Homo sapiens: one gene and its partners. The protein of the gene in region 3 interacts with the protein of the main gene of each other region in a biochemical or structural test. Each region holds a gene or a part of one and is shown on either strand. Other genes may lie near its edges.

Region 1 (3,574 bases), on a different chromosome or scaffold from region 3:
AGTGAGACCCTGTCTCAAATAATAGTAATAATAATAATAATAATAATAATAATAATAATAATAATAATAACTTCCTGCCTTAGTTTTTGCAATTGTGATCCACCTTATGAGTTCATAAGTACTTCCATGCCCATTATGGAAATAAATACGGTCATAATTTTACTTTTTACTAAGACCGAAGGGTAAAGTCAAAGAAAAACAATATTGAAAATAATCCTGGTGGATTTCTTCAGGCATACTCCACTCTCAGGGCCCCTTTGTGAAACACACCTGCTCATCAACTTTGCGCTGCAGCTGCATGATCTTGTTCTCCATGCCGATGTGCAGCTTCTTATAGCGCTCCACTGAGCGAGCCTCGATTTTGAGCTTCTTTAGCTCACGCTTGGCCATCATCCGCCTGAAGCAGCACTGAAGGTAGATGATGGCATGCATGCTCCTCTTGTAGTGTGTGCGGGCCAGCCAGCCCCGGACTCGCTTCTGAATGATGACTGCTTTGTGCTCACGGAGTATCTGCAGAAAAGGATAAGGGCAAGCAATGTCAAGACCCTGGACTACACTCATGATTATCAATCTATGTCGGGCTGAAAATCCACACATTACCTAGAGGAAAAGACATAAAAGTTGAATTGACAATGTACTATGTAGATTATACTTATCACAGATATATGGAGGCTACAAAATTATTTTTAAAAGTGATTTGAAAAGTAGACTTTAGAAGGTGATTTCAGAAACATACATAAAAATGTGTCATATGCACATATTATGTGTATAATTCTAAGCAGAATATAGAGTTGGAAGCTGTCTAAATAAAAAGCACCAGATTACCAAAAGAAAAACAACTATAAAAAGAAAGAAAAAATACATTAGGTTTCTTATTAGTATATGATTTCTGTTGGCAACAGATGATCCTCTATAAAATTAACAGAACCAGGCATCCTGTAAACTATGTGCTACTAAAATAAGAGATATCCCCACCACCCTGACTGCTGATACCACCTCACTATGCATTATTAGGCCCGTGCATGAGGACACGGGGTATGGGCAGCAAACTGTCTGTAGAGGCCAACACTTGGGGTACTAAAAAGTTTGTACTGATTTATTGATTTTTTTTTTTTTTAGAAACTAAAAGATGACACTCTTGTTTACCACATTTGAGGAATACCATTCTAGTGAGGATTTTCCATTGCTATTTCAAATGTAGCAAGGATCCACTTTTGGGATTCAAAGGTAGGAGGGATGGGGCTTTAAAATGAAAGGTAAAAGTAAAAAGATGTGAAACAAACTAATCTTACTTTTGATTTTATGTTACATTTCCTAAAAAAAAATGATATTTCCCTAAACTTATAAACAAACAAAAGTTTGCCTTATTAGATGAATTTGTTGTCGCTAAAGAGCACCAAAAAGACACCGTGTAAACATTTTCTAGGAAAGATGGAGAAGAAATTCTTGAATTTTAAGAAGAGGTAGCCAGGCACAGTGACTGGATAAATAAAACTATTAATGCCAATTTTCCTGTTCCATTTGCTTCTCCCATGTAACTTTGGACATGGGTCCATTTTTGTAATTTTAGTCAAATGGAAACAGCATTTAATCAGAGCTTCCATTTTCAATCTCACTTTCATCATGAGTGAGAGAAATTAATCAACACCTGTACTCTCTTTAAGACCCCCCCACTCCAAATCTCATGAAGGGGAACCTTGGACCTGAAATACAGCTAGAAGGAGCACTAATGTGATGGCTGTTGGCTTACATGTGAGCAAGCCTCTACGCTACCACCTTCCACCCTGTCCAGTCACAGTGGGAGCCTGAGCTGGCCGGAGGCTGCCACTGCTAAACCAGTGACCTCAAAACCCAGCTCAGATGTTCCTAAGGAAAGTAGTGAGGAACACAGGAAGGTAACTAGTTTGGTGTATCTGAAAAGCAACTTCAAACCTCTTTCCTCCCTAAAATCTCACGCTTATATAGAAAGAGCATGAGACTACATAAAGGAGGGGTGAGCAGAAAGATCTGGAGTAGCTATCTTCAAAACACAGCTATTAAATACACTCATTCAAGCCTCACCAGTTTCGAATTTTTTGTTGTCTAAAATCACTTCAAATAAAAATAAATAAATAAATAAATAAATAAATAAATAGGGCCTAGGTCACACCCATATACTGTCTGTGCTTAGAGACCCAAATCACCCCATTAATGCTCCTTCTAATGGTGATGTCCATAGAGCTCTAATATCCAGGCTTGTATTTCTCACTGATTTGAAATATAGCCTGTAGGATAGACTCCAAACCTTGCCAAAATGAAAGAGATAAAAATCGTTCATCAATGGTCACAGGTGATAATTAAGACTACTCTGGTGACCCCATTAATTATTGCTAGATGTAAGATTATTTGTCAAAAACTTTTGGAGCATTGTATCTGTCAATACAATTTTAACCACATTAATGTTATAATTTGCCTCCTCTTCACCATGGTAAATTCTTCCAAGGTTGTCTCATTCTTGGAATAACCTTTAACCTGTTTGTCATATATTCTATCTATTCAAAGTTCTCTGTAGTCATCTGAATAGGGGGCCCCAAGGAAATTAGGTGCTAATCCCTGGAACCTGCAAATGCTATTTATTCAGAAAAAGGGCCTTTGCAGATGTGATTAGGTTAAGGGTCTTCAGATGGGAGGATTATCCTGGATCACATGGGTGGAACCAAATGCTATCATAATTATTCTTATAAGAGGCAGATAGGAGAAGTCAAGTCAGATACACAGAAGAGAAAATGCTGTGAAAACAGAGGCTGAGACTGGACTGATGTGGCTACAAGCACAGGAATGCTGGCAGCCACCAGAAGCTGCAAGAGGCAAGGAATGGATTCTCCCCTGGAGCTTCTGGAAGGAGAGCAGCCTGCTGACAACTTGATTTTGTCCCATTGATAATGATTTTGGACTTCTGGTCTCCAGAACTCTGAGAGAATTAATTTTGGCTGTTTTAAGGTAACAAGTTTGTGATAATTTATTATAGCAGCCACAGTAAACTAACATACTTTTTTTTTCAAATTATATAAACAAAGAGAAAGAAGGAGGTAAAAGTTTTTTTCCCATTGTTTTGTTAATAACTGTATGTGATTATTTAGTATTTTAAAATGCATTTCAGGCTGGGCATGTGCACAATGGCTCATACCTATAATCTCAGCACTTTGGGAAGCCACAGTGGGAAGACTGCTTGAGGCCAGGAGTTTGAGGCTGCAGTGTACTATGACTGCACCACTGCACCCCAGCCAGGGTGACAGAGCGAGATCCTATTTCTAAAAAAGAATTTTTTAAAATAAATAAATATGCATTTCAATAGCTGGTTGTCCCCATACAGTTCCTACCTTCATTGTAGCCCCTGTGGTACTCTGTATAGATGTGAAATTTGGTTAATGCTAATAGAATGAATAAACAAAGTTGAAAATAATGCCTCACCTTGCGATACCTATTTCTGGCCAAGAAGCCTCGCAAGTAAGACTGAAGAACGATAGTGGCAGCTCGTCTAATCTTGTACCTCCTGCGGACCACATACATGCGCCAGTACTTTTGAATGATGGTT
Region 2 (3,574 bases), on a different chromosome or scaffold from region 3:
TCTGTTAACCTGATAAGTTGAGAATATGATCCCAGTAAAACATTTTATCCCATAGCAGTATATGTATGGATTTCAATTCTTTTTAGGTGGCTGCAAAATTCGGGTTCAGGGGGACTGGATCAGAGAGCGCCGCTTTGAAATCCCTGATGAGGAACACTGTTTGAAGTTCCTCTCAGCTGTCCTTGCTGCTCAGAAAGGTAACTAAAGACTCAGCGATTTTCTTTCTTCTATTTCAACGGGAGTGGAATTCTGACATGCTGATACAGAGGAAAGTGGCCATTGGCAAAATACCTCACCCTTTAAGCCCTGATAGCTGATTTTTTTTTCTTCAGGAGTGAACACAGGGATAGGTTAGGGAAAAAATCTGCCCAGCTTTAAGGACACTAGGCAAGTTTTCAGAATATTCAGTGTCATGGCAAGCACAGCTTACCATAGACTATAATTCTCCTTCTGCCCCTAGATGACCCCAGAGCTGCCCTCATTTCCTTAGTTTCTTCCACTGTATCCAAAAATGGTGCTGGCCCCTGCATATAAGGAATGTTGAAAGAATGGCTTTTGGCTATAGTAAATTCTACTCAGTGAAAGACTTCCCAGTTTCTGACCATGAACCTTATCTCTCTAGCTCAGTCACAGCTTCTTGTTCCAGAGCAAAAGGACTCATCTAGCTGGTACCAGAAATTAGACACTAAGGACAAACCTTCTGTTTTTTCAGGTACTAAAAAGTTCCTGGTTTCCTTGTTGCTATGGTCATTGCAGAGTCAGTAGATTTTGTCAGGCCAAATATGGTGATGTAGATTAAAGCTGATGTCAGACACATTCTCCTGCAGAGTAGTTTTATCAAGTCCAGGCCCACTGACCAGTGTTCACTCCTTATCCTTCCTGTAGCATGGTAGCTGTTCAGGAGCCAGCTTAGCAGGGTGGTAGAAAGTACAAGCTCGAGAGCCAGACAGCCTGGATTTGAATCCCAAGTCAAGAACTTACTAGTTGTACAACCTTCATCAAGTTACTCAACAACTCTGAACTTCCCTTTTCCTTTCTGTAATATGGGAAGATTTTTAATAGTACTTACTTCTTGGAGTTTTTGTGATGATTAAGTGAGATCATGATATAGTCCCTTACTCTCAACCAGGCATTGTGCTCAGTCTTCAATAAATGTTAGCTATTACTAGTCTGTTCCAAGTTCTTATAAACTTCTATTGTTCTAGTTAGTATATCAGTGCTTCAGGGATAGGTATGCTTCTTCGAACTCCAATCCAAGTAATTTCTACCCTTATGATAGTTTTCTGTTTAGTAATACCACTGATCAAATTGTGATCAAATCAAAGCCCTGTTACCCTGGATATGTTGGATGTTAGATTTTTTCCCCGTTTGACTTTGGGGTCTGTGTCTTTCAGGGCTTCTTGGATTTGAAGACAATTTTTCTTCTATGAATTTGGACAAGAAAATAAATTCACAAAATCAGCCTACTGGGATTCATCGGGAACCCCCACCTCCACCCTTTTCAGTGAATAAAATGTAAGTCCCATGTGAAAACATATTTGCCTTGTAGGAGAATTATAGTTTAAACAATTTTACTTTTGAATCTCTCATTTATTTGCTAGGCTTCCACGTGAAAAAGAAGCTTCTAACAAGGAGCAGCCCAAAGTGACCAACACCATGCGGAAGCTCTTTGTACCAAATACCCAATCTGGGCAGCGGGAGGGTCTCATCAAACATATCCTGGCAAAGCGAGAGAAAGAATATGTCAACATTCAGACTTTCAGGTTAGTGTCTCTTTTGCTTCCTGAGTCTAAAAAGTTAGTATATATAACAGACAGTGGCCTGTTGATATTTAAGACATTAGCCTAATTAAGAATCAAAATATGATAAAAAGGAATGGTTGCCTGTTTCAAGCTCCTGTCTCTATGCTGGCCAATAACATGCATATCAGAAATAATGCAGATGCTACAGTTTCCCTTGGATTTTCTTTTTTTGTGTGTGTGGGTCAGGGTCTCTCTTTGTCACCCAGGCTGGAGAGCAGATAGATCATGGCTTACTGTAGCCTCAACCTCTCAGTCGTAAGCAATCCTCCCACGCCAGCCCTGCAAGTAGGTGGAACTACAGGTGCACACCACCACATCCAGCTAATATTTGTGTTTTTTATAGAGACTGGGTTTCACCAGGTTGCCCAGGCTGGTCTCAAATTCCTGAGCTCAGGCAATCCACCCGCCTTGGCCTCACAAAGTGTTAGGATTACAGGCTTGAGCCACCGTGCTTGGCCTTCCCTTGGATTTTCTAACTACTAATAATGCCATGTCTACTAATGTCTCTACTGAGTCCTAGAGAACCAAATCAAGGTCACATGTACTAGAGAATTTTCCCCTAGCACATTCCATAAGCAAGCGTGTTTATATATCTGGCCTGTTAAGTTTTTTTTTTTCAGCCAATATTAGAAAATTAAAGTCCATCATTACCACTAGCTCTTAACTTACTTACTTTGGTAAATAAAGAAAGTTTCACCCAGTCCTCTTGATTGGGAGGTCTATCTTGGGTTCTTTTATCTGTATTATTTTTTATTTCATCTTTTTTCTGGACTTGTGTGTGTATGCTGCATGTGAGGTACCATGTGGCATGTATCGCCAATGCATGAAGCAACACCACATTTCTTTGTTATTCATGAGCAGAATGTACCCTTCTAGTCCAAGATTCTAGTCCCATCTGCTATCCTGTCATACCTCATTTATTCTAATTCAGTCATAACTATATCCCTATGCTAAAACTTGCAGTTCCTCATATCCCCCACTATGCTTATATTTGTGTGTAAACAGTTAAGACAGTCATGAGTTTTCCCTTCTGCTTTCCCCCTTAATACTATGTCTGCCTCATCAGAATTTCCTACACAGATGTCCTTGTAATCCTTCAGGAAGTGAGTTCCTGGAGTCAACTATAGCCCCTTATAGAACATTTATCCATATTTGACTAGCTTACAGCATGAAGATACCTCTTTCCCATCCATAAGCTCTCCTATCAAGTATGAGTTTGGATGGAGCTTAATTGAAAGGAAATGTGGTATAGCAATTACCTTTGCATTTTTTAAAAATAAAGACTTGGTTTCCTTCTGTAGTTTTACTTAATGTAAAATTTAGAGAAAATAAGCCCACTGCCTTTGTGTTCTAGATGCAAAAGATCTTTCTTACATATGTGGCAAAACATTTTGAGGAATTATGTTAGCATATTGTGAACATACCTTTGTATGGAAGCGAAAAGAAAGAACTTCTGTTGGTTTATACTTGATCTTTGTTTTCAAATTATCTTTTCGTATTATGTATTAGATTTTTTGTTGGAACTTGGAATGTGAATGGCCAGTCTCCAGATAGCGGGTTAGAACCTTGGCTGAACTGTGATCCCAATCCTCCTGATATCTACTGCATTGGGTAAAGAACACTTCTGGAATTTCCTTTTGGCTATATGTTTGGTGTTCATTTACATGATGTTTTGCCTTTTTTAAAAAAGACTGTTGGTAAAACCTACTGTAGACTATACACGAGAGTTAACTTGCGGGTCAAATTTGTGAGAACAGAAATGAACAGATACC
Region 3 (2,453 bases):
GCTGTAAGACCTTGGGTGTGTGCCCTCCCCTCTCTTAGTGTCCTTTTTCTAGACTTGTGGGTCTCCAGCCCAGCTGGGCACTCACCAAGGTGGTCAGCTAGCTGCCGGCCACGTTCTGATGACACCACCCGCTCATCCTCCATGTCACACTTGTTTCCTACCAGCAGCACCTGGGCATTGTCCCATGAGTAGGTCTTGATCTGGGTGGACCTATAGGAGGCACCAATGGGGGCAGGTCAGGGCTTGGAGGATCCCAGCTCCACCCTGACGGGCTGATGTGGAGCCTGTGTCCTTGTCCGAGGAAGAAAGACCCAGAAGCTTGCCCCTCCATCCTCCCCACCATCCTTTCCCCCAATGTGCCCCGCTTTCACCCCACTCCAGCCCCCGACTGACCCATTATTGTTTCTGTGTTTTGGGGTTTTTTTTGAGATAGAGTCTGGGTCTGTTGCCCAGGCTGGAGTATCTGCCTGCCTTCGCTTCTCAAAGTACTGGAATTACAGGCATGAGCCACCCAGCCCAGAAATTTTCTTTTTTTGAGATAGAGTCTTGCTCTGTCGCCCAGGCTGGAGTGCAGTGGCGCGATCTAGGCTCACTGCAATCTCCGCCTCCCAGGTTGAAGTGATTCTCCTGCCTCAGCCTCCTAAGTAGCTGGGACTATAGGCATGAGCCACCATGCCTGGTAATTTTTTGTGCTTTTAGTAGAGACAGGGTTTCACTATGTTGGCCACGATGGACTCGAACTCCTGAGCTCAAGATCTACCCACCTCGGCCTCCCAAGGTGCTGGGATTATAGGCATGAGCCACTGTGCCCAACCCAGAAATTTTTTTTTAAAGTTATTACTTCTGAGCAGAAAATTGAAATGTTTACAATCTCTAACCTATGCCAACTCTCCTTTTTTTTTTGAGACAGAGTTTTGCTCTTGTTGCCCAGGCTGGAGTGCAATGGCAATCTTGGCTCACTGCAACCTCCACCTCCCGGGTTCGAGCGATTCTCCTGCCTCAGGCTCCCAAGTAGCTGGGATTACAGGTGTGCGCCACCACGTCTGGCTAATTTTTGCATTCTTAGTAGAGATGGGGTTTCTCCATCTTGGTCAGGCTGGTCTCGAACTCCCGACCTCAGGTGATCCACCTGCCTCAGCCTCCCAAAGTGCTGGGATTATAGGTGTGAGCCACCGTGCCCGGCCATGCCAACTCTCCTTATAGTCTCTATATTCTCCACCCTACACTTGCAGATATTTGTTTCTATATGGTTATAGTTTTACTTTTCCATCTGAAATCCTTCTCTGACCCCTACGTTTTATTTATTATTTTTTGAAGAAAGTTTGGCTCAGAGACAATGGCCCCAGAATGAGTGTGGAAGGCCAGAAGCGATGGCTCACGCCTGTAATCCCAGCACTTTGGGAGGCCAAGGTGGGCAGATCACTTGAGCCAAGGAGTTCAAGACCAGCCTGGGCAACATGAGGAAACCCCATCTCAACTAAAAATACAAAAAAATTAGCCAGGTGTGGTGGTATATGCCTGTAGTCCCAGCTACTTGGGAGGCTGAGGCAGGAGGATCACTTGAGCCCAGGAGGTCGAGGCTGCAGTGAGCCCTGATCGTGCCACTGCACTCCAGCCTGGGTGACAGAATAAAACCCTCTCTCAAAGAAAAGAAAAGAAAAAAAAAGAGCAAGTGGGGTACACTCACCAGTCCTGCACTGCATTGAAGGATTCCTCGTTGGTGATGTCATACATGAGGATGAAGCCCATAGCGCCCCGGTAGTATGCGGTGGTGATGGTCCGGTACCGCTCTTGCCCTGCTGTGTCCTAGGGAGGAAGAGATGAAGGTCAGAGAGGACCTGCACATAAGGCCCTCGAAGAGGAAATGAGCTCTGATATCATCCAGTTCAGCCCCCTGGGAGAAGCAGGAGCTTGCCCAGGGGCACAAAGTGTCAGGAAGAGCAGGTTGGGTCACCAGTGCTCAGAATATATGAGTGCTCCATTATTCCACAGAGTCATTCACCAAACGTACTGTGCCAGGTGCTGTGGCTCACACCTGTAATCCCAGCACTATGGGAGGCTGAGGTGGGCAGGTGGCTTGAACCCAGGAGTTCCAGACCAGCCTGAGCAACATAGCAAGACCCCATCTCTACAAAAAGTACAAAAATTAACAGGGTGTGGTGGCTCACACCTGTAGTCCCAACTACTCAGGAGGCTCAGGTGAGAGGGTTGCTTGAGCCCAGGAGGCAGAGGTTGCAGTGAGGTGAGATCGCGCCACTGCAGTTCAGCCTGGGTGACAGAGTGAAACCCTGTCTCAAAAAACAAACAGGGGGTCGGGTGTGGTGGTGGCTCACGCCTGTAATCCCAGCACTTTGGGAGGCCAAGGCAGGTGGATCACCTGAGGTCAGGAGTTCGAGACCAGCCTGGCCAACATGGTGAAACTCTGTCTCTACTAAAAATACAAAAATTAGCTC
Region 4 (3,574 bases), on a different chromosome or scaffold from region 3:
ATGCTATCACCCAGGAGAGCAGCTTGAAGCTCTAGGGAGATGTATTTTTAAACTAAAAGTGAAGTTGACCCTCATCTGCCCAGATTTCTCCTCTAGAGGAGGAGTTATACATAAATATAGCCAGCTTGCTGCCCCTCATACTTGGTTAGGATTCCTATAAGTCTGATTGATAATGTCATGTCTGCCACATGTAGCAAGGAGCTGTGGAGAGTAAGATGAACAACATTTCTGCTCCTTAAAGGTGGCTTTCCCCCATGGTCTATATTAGAGGTTGGCAAACTTTTTCTATTAAGGAACAATTAGTAAATATTTTAGACTTTTTGCGCCAAGAGCCAAAACCATAGCTATTTTGTGGATAAGTATGCATCAATCAAGAAAATAAATGTCTGCCAATATTTTACCGATGACATTAAAAATATAACAATAATAATTGAGTGCAGTTATTTCATAGCATAGATCTACTAAAGAGAAGAATGGAATTTTAGGGCACATAACATCTAACTTAAAGTGAGCATTCCTATCATTAAAATTAATGATAGTAGGCCTAGCGCATTCCAGAGCTACTGAATTTGAATCTAAATTTTAACAAGGTCCCCCAGTGATTTGTACCTTAAAGTTCAAGGCCATTCTGGTCTAGAGTTTCTTAATACATTTTTGGCTTATATTTTTATCACTTTAGAGAAGATAGTGAAAGCTGTGGATCCTAGAAAAAGTTCACAAATCATTTGAAGTTCATTCAAGACTCCTACAAGGTCTGTGGCTTTGAAATTAAGACCCCAGGGATTCTGTGGACATGCCCGCCCAGAGCGAAAGTGTTCTGAAATTAGATTGTGGTGATGGCTAAACGCACTGTGAATAGACTAAAAAAAAAAAAACATTGAATTGTACACTTCAAATGGGTGAATTGTACAGTATGTACATTATATCTCACAAAAGCTGCTTTTCAAAAAAACAGAATCTCTTGAGTTTGTGTTCCATGGATTTTTTTTAACGTCCTATGGGGTTCCAATGGACACCTCAAGTGGAGAATTGCAAAGAGTCAGGTTTTGGAGTCAGGAAGCTCTGCATTCAAATCCTAGCTTTGGCAATTACTATGTTACAGAAACTAAGTTACTTAACCTCTCTGAACCTTGGTTTCTTTTCATACAGGGTGGAGATAATAATAGTACTAACTTCACAGGGTTTTGAGGAGGATCAAAAGGAACTTCTAATGCAAAATTCCTGGAAGATTCCTTGTCACATGCACTTTTTCATGTGAAATGGTGGGATTCCTCAGATATCAAATGCAAAGCCAAAAATAATTACATGCTTCGCATTATTCAAGTCGTAATTAATCACACATGTCATATTATCCATGTTGTACTATATTTTCCACTTAAATGTATATTTCCTGCTCCATTATTATACTTGCCTTAATGCTTTTTCCTTATGAGTCATGGTAATAATGATAGTGAACACTCAGCACTTATATACAAGTTTCAGGCCCTGTTATGAATTCTTGATTTACATATATGAACAGTACAATCTTTACATTGTGAAAGGAAAATAAATCTCTGGACCCCAAAATCACTAAGCCGAAGGGAAAAGTCAAGCTGGGAACTGCATTGGGCAAACCTGCCTCCCATTCTATTCCTAAATAAGATACCTACAAAGATAAAAAAGCTACATACCTCCCTCACAATTTTTCTCACAGGGAAATTTCTTGTGGACAAAGGACAGGGAGAACTCAAAGTCATCCCTCTGTCACAGAAGACAAATGTGTATCTGATTGCTTCCTTTGCCCTGTTTTTTCACTAAGCCAGACTAAGGCATAAGTGACTATTCCTGTAAATTGTGCTTATCAAAATATCAAAAGAATGCAACCATTTGTCTCCTATCTACCTGTGACCTGGAAGCCCCCTCCCTGCTTAGAGTTGTCCCGCCTTTCTTGACTGAACCAATGTTCATCTTACCTATACTGATTGATGTCTCACGGCTCCCTAAAATGTATAAAACCAAGCTGTGTCCCAATCACCTTGGGCACATGTCGTCAGGACCTCCTGAGGCTGTATCACTGGCACATCCATAATCTTGGCAAAATAAACTTTGTAAATTGATTGAGACCTGTCTCAGATACCTTTTGGTTTACAATATCAATTATTTGATTTAGATACTTTCACTATTCCCATATTACAGGTAGGAAAACCAAGGCAGAGGGAGGTTAAGTAACTTGTCCAGTGTTACACAGCTTGTAAGTGGTGAAGCTGGATTCTGACTAAGGGGTCTGACTCTATTGACTGTGCTCTTGACCACTATAATATACTGTAGAATTAAATATACATACATATAACATATATGTACACACACAACAATATTATATATAACATAATATACAACATAACACACAGGTGTGTGTGTGTGTTTAATTTTGTATTGGTCAAATTTATACCAGTGCCCAGCACTCCTGCTTTGGAGGGTACACACTTGTACATACCAAAAGAGTTTTATTATGACAGTGTAGAGAGGATGTAGGATATGACATCAGAGCAGATTGCCCTGACTAAAGAAAGAAATAAAAGCTGAAACAGTAGTCAGAGTGTGGAGAGGGTAGAGAGGAAAATGAGATTGGGGAGGTCCTGATGCTACCTGGCTCCTGTGAGCAGGAATGGGGGAGCTAAGCTAGGAGAGGAGGAGTTGGTGGTGGTTGAGGGACTAGGAGGACTGAGGGGGCCAGTAGATCTAGGGGCCTTGAGTAATGATGAGGGGCCCAAAGAATGCAGGGTCCCCTTAAGAAAAGATCATGGAGAGGAAACCAATCAGTGAGATGCTGGAGATGGGGTGAGGTCAGTGACAGGTTCGCAGATACCAGTATAGATTGAGTGAGCCTGAGAATCAGGAAGAAAGGTAAAAATTGGTGCAGCAGGAAAAAATACCCCAGGAAGATGCCTTTGGAAGTTACTTAAGCTGACCAAAGTGACTCTGGTACAAAGCAGGAACTCTGGTTTAAATCTTGGCTCTAAAATTTCTGAGAAACATGACTGAACCTCTGTATGCCTTGGTTACATAGAAAACACTTGAATAGTTCTTGAGTCACGGTAAATCCTCAGAAAGTGTGAGCCTTTGGCATTATCATTAGGAGCAGTACTGAACCTACATTTCATGTTTGCTGACCCAGGTTCAACATTTTTCCCAGTATAAGCAGTGAAAGATTATCACTAGATGATATTCTCACTGTTCAGGAACCTACTCTTTAGGTCTGAGTTGAGCCAATATTTAGTTATATCCTATTGTGCTTAAGTATAAAGCCATACATATGACTATTATTCACAAGAACAATAAGAGTCAGATGGGAATTCACTTGAAAGAAAATCAATAGCTGTTTGGTTGTTGTGTATAACTGATTTAGAAATAACCTTCCTGTGTTTGGAGCTCAAACTCTGTAACAGTCAACAAAAATAATTAGATGGCAGCTGTGAGTAGTTCAAAGCAAATTAAATTCTTCCTTCTTGAACATGGCTAATGCAAACAGGACATCCCAATCTATATTTTTTCCATATTAATGTCTGGACTTCCTTGTATTTAAGATCAATAGTAT

The links.
Region 1: the proteins of RAB3A (region 3) and MYO5A form a complex in vitro, tested with the Homo sapiens proteins (one study listed by BioGRID).
Region 2: the proteins of RAB3A (region 3) and OCRL interact in a biophysical measurement, tested with the Homo sapiens proteins (one study listed by IntAct).
Region 4: the proteins of RAB3A (region 3) and SYTL5 form a complex in vitro, tested with the Homo sapiens proteins (one study listed by BioGRID).

Annotation. Positions count from the first base shown.
Region 1 is NC_000015.10:52,371,854-52,375,427, forward strand, and holds part of MYO5A (unconventional myosin-Va), read right to left. Parts: coding exon 3,451-3,574; intron 511-3,450; coding exon 271-510; intron 1-270. UniProt on the Homo sapiens protein: Processive actin-based motor that can move in large steps approximating the 36-nm pseudo-repeat of the actin filament. Can hydrolyze ATP in the presence of actin, which is essential for its function as a motor protein. Involved in melanosome transport.
Region 2 is NC_000023.11:129,557,239-129,560,812, forward strand, and holds part of OCRL (inositol polyphosphate 5-phosphatase OCRL), read left to right. Parts: intron 1-86; coding exon 87-197; intron 198-622; coding exon 623-712; intron 713-1,394; coding exon 1,395-1,515; intron 1,516-1,601; coding exon 1,602-1,763; intron 1,764-3,311; coding exon 3,312-3,413; intron 3,414-3,574. UniProt on the Homo sapiens protein: Catalyzes the hydrolysis of the 5-position phosphate of phosphatidylinositol 4,5-bisphosphate (PtdIns(4,5)P2) and phosphatidylinositol-3,4,5-bisphosphate (PtdIns(3,4,5)P3), with the greatest catalytic activity towards PtdIns(4,5)P2.
Region 3 is NC_000019.10:18,198,640-18,201,092, forward strand, and holds part of RAB3A (ras-related protein Rab-3A), read right to left. Parts: intron 1,807-2,453; coding exon 1,688-1,806; intron 211-1,687; coding exon 86-210; intron 1-85. UniProt on the Homo sapiens protein: The small GTPases Rab are key regulators of intracellular membrane trafficking, from the formation of transport vesicles to their fusion with membranes.
Region 4 is NC_000023.11:38,013,008-38,016,581, reverse strand, and holds part of SYTL5 (synaptotagmin-like protein 5), read right to left. Parts: intron 1-3,574. UniProt on the Homo sapiens protein: May act as Rab effector protein and play a role in vesicle trafficking. Binds phospholipids.